Linked DNA regions of Homo sapiens. The protein of the gene in region 2 interacts with the protein of the main gene of each other region in a pairwise test. Each region holds a gene or a part of one and is shown on either strand. Other genes may lie near its edges.

Region 1 (3,500 bases), on a different chromosome or scaffold from region 2:
ACCAAAACAATACTACCCACTTAGATATTGCTGCAGTTCAAGGTTTTTCAGTCATCTTGGACTTCTTGTATTCTGGTAACCTGGTGCTCACAAGCCAAAATGCCATTGAAGTTATGACCGTGGCCAGCTATCTTCAAATGAGTGAAGTTGTTCAAACTTGCCGAAATTTCATTAAAGATGCCTTAAATATAAGCATTAAATCAGAAGCTCCAGAGTCTGTAGTTGTGGACTATAATAATAGAAAACCAGTTAATAGAGATGGTCTGTCTTCATCACGGGATCAAAAAATTGCCAGTTTTTGGGCAACACGGAATCTTACCAATTTGGCAAGTAATGTAAAGATTGAAAATGATGGTTGTAATGTCGACGAGGGCCAAATAGAAAACTACCAAATGAATGACAGTAGTTGGGTCCAGGATGGATCTCCTGAAATGGCTGAAAATGAATCTGAAGGTCAAACAAAAGTGTTTATTTGGAATAATATGGGCTCCCAGGGAATTCAAGAGACTGGCAAAACAAGGAGGAAAAACCAAACTACAAAAAGATTTATTTATAATATTCCACCTAATAATGAAACGAATTTAGAAGATTGCTCAGTAATGCAGCCACCTGTTGCCTATCCAGAAGAAAATACACTACTCATCAAGGAAGAACCAGGTAAATATTATCTATACAAGGATACTTCCTTGTTCATCCTAATTCTAGTTGGATATAATCTTGAAGTATATTTTTAATTGAATTATTTTAGTTATAAAGTAATACTAAAGTTGTTTACAAAAGAAGGGGGAACGTCATTCAAATGCATAACATATTTGGTATATTTTCTTTGTCTTTTTTCAACACATATATATGTGGGTTTATCAAAAGATGTATTAATAGCCAGGTATTGCATATATTGTCAAGGAACGTGGACTCTGCTGCATGTACGGGTCTTTGACTTTCCTCATTTTTAGCCTCTGTGCTCACTATTTTATACCCAGTGTTGGGAAAGATAGAATCTTTAGTTGTAATATATAATCACTGTCGTTTCAGAGACCCCCTTAACCTTTTTTATTTTATTTTTGGCTGTTAAAACATATTTAAGTGTTTCAAAGAATTTTGCCAATTATGAGATTATGGTATTCTAGTTTGTTTAGGGCTACTGTTCTTCTGTTATTTTTTGTTTATTTATTTTTTTGAGTCGGAGTCTCACTCTATAGCCCAGGCTGGAGTCTCACTGCAAACTCCGCCTCCCAGGTTCAAACGATTCTCCTGCCTCAGCCTCCTGAGTAGCTGGGACTGCAGGTGCGTGCCACCACACCCAGCTAATTTTGTATTTTTAGTAGAGATGGGGTTTCACCATGTTGTCCAGGCTGGTATGGAACCCCTGACCTCAGGTGATCTGCTTGCCTCGGCCTCCCAAAGTGCTGGGATTACAGACATGAGCCACCACACCTGGCCTAGAGCAGGTACTGTTCTGTTCTCACCATAGAAGCTATTTTGTTTGTCCACTGTCACCTGATTTTCATTCACCTTTGCATTCATTGCAAAGCCTCTGAGGCCTTTCTCTTCAATATATTTCTCTCCAAAAGTTCCGTAGGAATCTTAGAGAATCACATTTACAGTGGGAATTTTTTTAAAACGAGAAGACCATTGTTAAGTCTTTAGTTTAATCTGGCTGTGCATATCTTTATTTGAAGAAGCTCAGTGGGTTTGAGGTTTCCTATGCATGCCTGAGGCTTGTCCACCACTGTCATACATTATTTAATGCTTGTTTTTTTCACTTCAAAGCACTGTAACTGTTCAGTGTCTGATTTATACGATGGTGGTCATCTGAGGATGGAGTATTTTCTGTTAAAGGAATCACTGTTTTTAGTTGCCAGAGGGCAAAATGCCATAGTAATCCTGTGAAATGTTCCTCTGGCTTTTTAGATTTGGGTTAGCTTTCAGTGATAGGAATTTTGTGTATGTATGTGTGTGTGTGTGTGTGAAATTTTTACTGTGTGAAAAATCAAGTGTGTATATATAACGAATACTATATATCTTTTTCCTTGTACTTTATATCAAGTTTTAACAATAAAATCCCTGAGACAATTTAGTTAAATGAAGTATTAAGGGTAGATAGACTCCTTAGCTAGCACTTTGTTTTGTCTTAATGTAGAAGACCTTGACAGATTTCTCATTAGAGCTACGTTGTCTTTGTGCTGTATGGATTATTTCTGTTTAACAGTATGGTGGGAACCCTGTAGTGTTTTTAAATACACACACTTTTCCTTAAAGGAATAAATAACATCTTTTGGGTGTAGCGGTTGTTTGATGGTAACTAGTCAGCAGTAACCTCATTTAAAAAATTAATGCCACATATAATTGGAGTGATTTAAAGAAAAGCATTAATAATGAACCACAATGCATACTTTCAAAGATGACATTACTAGCAATTTTTATCAAGTATCTCCTAGCCATGGTTGTGTTAATGGACTAGTTCTATTATAAATTAATTGGTGGTCTAATATGCTTTATCTCTTACATCTGTTTTGTTTGTTTGTTTTTAAACGGAGTCTCACTCTGTTGCCCAGGCTGGAGTGCAGTGGCACAGTCTTGGTTCACTGCAACCACTGCCTCCTGGGTTCAAGCGATTCTCCTACCTCAGCCTCCCAAGTAGCTGGGATTACAGGCACATGCCACCACACCTGGCTAATTTTTTTATTATTACTAGAGACGGGGGTCTCACCATGTTGGCCAAGCTGGTCTCGAACTCGTGACCTCAAGTCCACCCACCTTGGCCTCCCAACATGTTGGGATTACATGGGTGAGCCACCGTGCCCAGCCGTCTCTTAAAAAGGATTATTTTCATTTCATTGATACCAGTTTGGTATCCGAACCTTGCTTAACTCACAAATTTGGTTCTATCCATGCCACCAGTGTTATTTGGTGGAAAAAATAAATGGGTCTCAAAAGAGCATTATGGTTAGGGTATATAATATGATATAGAACCAAGGACTGGTAAATTTTTACTGTAAAGGGCTAAAACAGTAAAAAAAAAAAAGACTTTCACCTTTGTTGGTCATAAAAGTCAGCTCATCAACTCTGCCACTTGTGACATGAAAGCAGTCATTTGTACTATGTAAACAAATGAAGGTAGGTGTGTTCCAGTAAAACTTGCCAACCCTTCGTATATAGCAGTGGTTCTTAATCATGGGTATGCACGTTGGTATCACTTGGGAGCATTACATGCCGTAAAGGGTCTCTCTTCTGTGGATTCCAATTTAATTGGTATGGAATGTGGTTTGGATGTGGAATTTTTTTTAAAGTTCTACAGGTAATTTTATGAGTTAAGGCTGAGATCAGCAAATATTACTATATTGGAAAGAGCCTAAATTGAGTCAAACATAATGAATTTAAAATTTAAAAATAAGCTGTGCCACCTACCCCCTGTAGTCCATGATCAAATTAAGCTCTTGTCCTCAGTTTCCTCATTAAAATATTGTGTTGATTTTATAGAATTATTATGAAAATGAAGT
Region 2 (3,500 bases):
TATTTAAGACAGCTATATCTTCTCCTTGTATTGAACCCTTTATTATTATATAATACATTCTTTGTCTTTTTACTGTTGTTGATTTAAAATCTGCTTTATCTGATGTAAATATAGCTACTACTGCTCATTTTTGTTTTGTGTTTGCACAGTGTATCTTTTTCCACTCCATTGAGTTTGTGGGTGTTTTTACCAAAGGGTGTCACTTGTGGGCAGAAAACGATCAGGTTTTGTTTTTTAATCCAATTTGCCTGTCTATATGTTTAAGTGGAGGATTTAGGCCATTTATGTTCAGGGTTAATATTGATATATGAGGGTTTGTTTCCGTCATAATATTGTTACCTAGTTGCTTTGTTGTCTCAATTTACACTACGATTTTTATATCTACATTTATAAATGAAATTAGCCTGTAATTTTTCTTTTCCATACTGTCCTTGTCAGGTGTTAGTATCAAGGGTATGCTGCCTCAAAAAATGAGTTGGGAAGTGTACTGAGTTGAATAGTGTTTACCCAGAAGCTGTGAGTGTGACATTTGGAAAGAAGGTCTTCGCAGATGTTATCAAATTAAGATGAGGTCATGCTGAGTTAGGGTGGGCCTATAGAAGATCAGGAAAATTTAGACATGGAGGAAAGAAAGCCATGTGATTAAAGTGAGACTGGAGTGATGCATCCATAGGCCAAGGATTGCTAGAAACCATAAGAAGCTAGAAGAGGCAAGGAAGGATTCTTCCCTAAAGAAAACAGAAGAAGAATGACCCTGCTGATATCTTGATTACAAACTTCTATCCTCCAGAGCAATGAGAGAATAGATTTCTGTTGTTTTAAGCCACTTGGTTTGTGGCAATTTGTTATGGTGCTCTAAGAAACTAATAGAGAAAGTGGCCCCACTTTTTTGATTCTCTGAAATGTTTATGTAAAATTGGAATATTTTCCTTGACTTTACAGTAGACCTTGCCAGTGGAGTCTTCAGGGTCAAGTATTTACTTGGTGAGATTTCTGATTACTGATTGAATTTCTTTAATGATTACAGAACTATTTGGGTTTTCTATTTCTTCTTGAGTTAATTTTGAGAAGCTATTTTTTTTACATGTTCATAATATTTTCATTATCTTTCTTTTTTCACTGTTACAATAACTTTAATTTATCTTGTATTTTACAGAAGTCTATGAACGATTTTAAAAAAGCACCTCTTTACCCCATATCATGTTTCTCTGACAGTTGTTAAAGTAGTCTATACATATGTCAACAGCTTGAGCATCAGCATCTTGCAAGGATTTCACACCAACCAGCCACTAGCCAAAGAACTTGGCAGCTTTTTTATCTTGCTTTTAATACAATGGTATATCCACTCTGATGGCAAACTGGTTTAGCCACATATCCACAACACGCTTTGAAAAATCAGTGATTAGCAAATTAGTTAGCTTTGGCACAGGGCTGTGCTCGCTTGCCCATGACAGTCTGGAAGCCAGTTTTGATACTGGCAACAGAACATCTAGAATGACAAGTTTCACACTGTAGGAAATAAGAGTTGCATGTCCTTCTGCAGGATTGTGTCCAGTGATCAGCATGTGTGACAAGTGACATACTCCTTGATAAATCTTAAGACATTTTCTATCTGTTTTTGTTGGAATCTTCCTTTACAAGTTGGTTATTACCATCTATAGAACCACTTGTACCCAATTCAACCAACAAAAATGCAAGTGTGCTGACAATATAATAGTTTACAGATATCTGTAAAGTTGACAGAAGAAGTTTTCTTGGTTCCTACTCAGACGACCTGTGGAGGTTGCATAACGAATTTCTTTTTCTCCCCAGCAACCATATCTGGATTCTTTTCCCTCATGATGTTGAACACACAATTCAGCAGCTCCTCTTATGTGTAGTCTCCTTCTGAGCCTGCCCAAGCAGGGCCTGTCTGATTACTGAATGAGATACCATCATCTTTTTTGCTATCTTCATCTTCTAGAGCTTCATCTTTCTCTAGTAGTTCATCCTCATCTGGGAACTTGACATTCTTCTTTTTCTTCTTTTTATTCCAAGCATAATGTCAAGGTCATCCTCTGGTTCAGCTGGTTCTTGAACATCACTTTCAATCTTAAGATCCTTTACAACTTCTTCAGCTTCATCAATATCAAATATCTTTTTTGTTTTTTTTTCTTTTTCTTTTGATTAAAGAAGTTCAAGTCATCTAGATCATCAGAAGCATCGTTTTTCCTACTGTCCTCATTGTCAGCTTCCAAATCTTTGTCCTCAGTTGGCTCTGGCTCCAGACTTTTGTTTCTGAGGGCTGCGTTTCCTGTTTGAGTATCCCCTTCCTCATCTAACATAAAAGGCTTCTTCTTCTTCTTTTCTTCTTGCTCACAGTAGGATCAAAAATCATCTCATCTCCAGATATGGATGCGATTCCAGTGGGCTCCGCATGGATGGGAAGTCAGACAGGTCAGCCCCCAGGCCCCGTGGCAGCGCTGCTCCTGCTGATACCTCTCCCACCACCGCACTAGGCTCTTGCATCAGCCAAAGGGCCATTATCTTTCTTAAAGGCTACAGTATCTGCAATGATATCCCTTTCATCATTCTTTATATGCATTGCTTGGTGCCTTCTCTTCTCCTTCAATCTCTCCAGAGTTTGTCAATTGTATTAGTCTCAAAAAACTAACATTGTTGTTCCTCTTGATTCAAATGTTTTCTATTTCATTAATTTCTCCTCTTTATTATTTCCTTTCTTCTACTTGATTAGGGTGTATTTTACGGTTAGTTTGTCAGTTCCTTTACATAAATACTTAACTCATTATATTTCAGCCATTTTTCTTTTCTAATATATATTTTTAAAGCTATAAATTTTCTGATAAGTTTTACTTTAGCTGCATCCCTCAAGTTTTATATTATGTTTTCATTGCCATTCAGTTCCAAATTTTTTCTAAATTCCATTATTTCTGTTTTTACTCAGAGGATATTGGAAATTAACTTCCAAACATATGAGAATTACTAGTTATATTTTTGTTATTGATTTCTAGCTTAATTGCATTGTTGTCAGATAATGTATTCTTAATGAAATTTATTTAGATAAGATTTTATAATTCAGTATCTGGTCAATTTTTGTAAATGTTCCAGATGTATTTCAGAAGAATGTATATTCTCCCATTTTGGGGTGCATTGTTCTATGTAAATGTATTAAGTCAAGTTTCATAATCCCTAATACTTTTTTAGAAGAATAATTTTTTCTGCCTCCAAACTCTAATTACATTCTCTCATCTACCTTCTTTCTTACAAAGAAATATCAAGTTCTTTATCATTCTGAGCACTCTTCCCATGCATCATCGTCATCATCTTGGGTGACAAACCTTAAATTTCCAAACAGTGAGTAAGCCATTTAATAACTGGTTAAGGTTTGGGACATTATATTAATCTCTCCCAGGCTCAAAATCTCTTCTTACCTGTAAATGAGGATTGTAGGACTAACTGAGAATTAACATATAACATGTTTAAAAATACTATTATTTTTA

The links. Proteins that work in one complex are often made in the same cells at the same time.
Region 1: the proteins of EHHADH (region 2) and ZBTB10 interact in binary tests that used the Homo sapiens proteins (3 or more experiments, as listed by UniProt).

The regions. Positions count from the first base shown.
Region 1 is NC_000008.11:80,499,726-80,503,225, forward strand, and holds part of ZBTB10 (zinc finger and BTB domain-containing protein 10), read left to right. Parts: coding exon 1-657; intron 658-3,500. UniProt on the Homo sapiens protein: May be involved in transcriptional regulation.
Region 2 is NC_000003.12:185,244,050-185,247,549, forward strand, and holds part of EHHADH (peroxisomal bifunctional enzyme), read right to left. Parts: intron 1-3,500. UniProt on the Homo sapiens protein: Peroxisomal trifunctional enzyme possessing 2-enoyl-CoA hydratase, 3-hydroxyacyl-CoA dehydrogenase, and delta 3, delta 2-enoyl-CoA isomerase activities. Catalyzes two of the four reactions of the long chain fatty acids peroxisomal beta-oxidation pathway.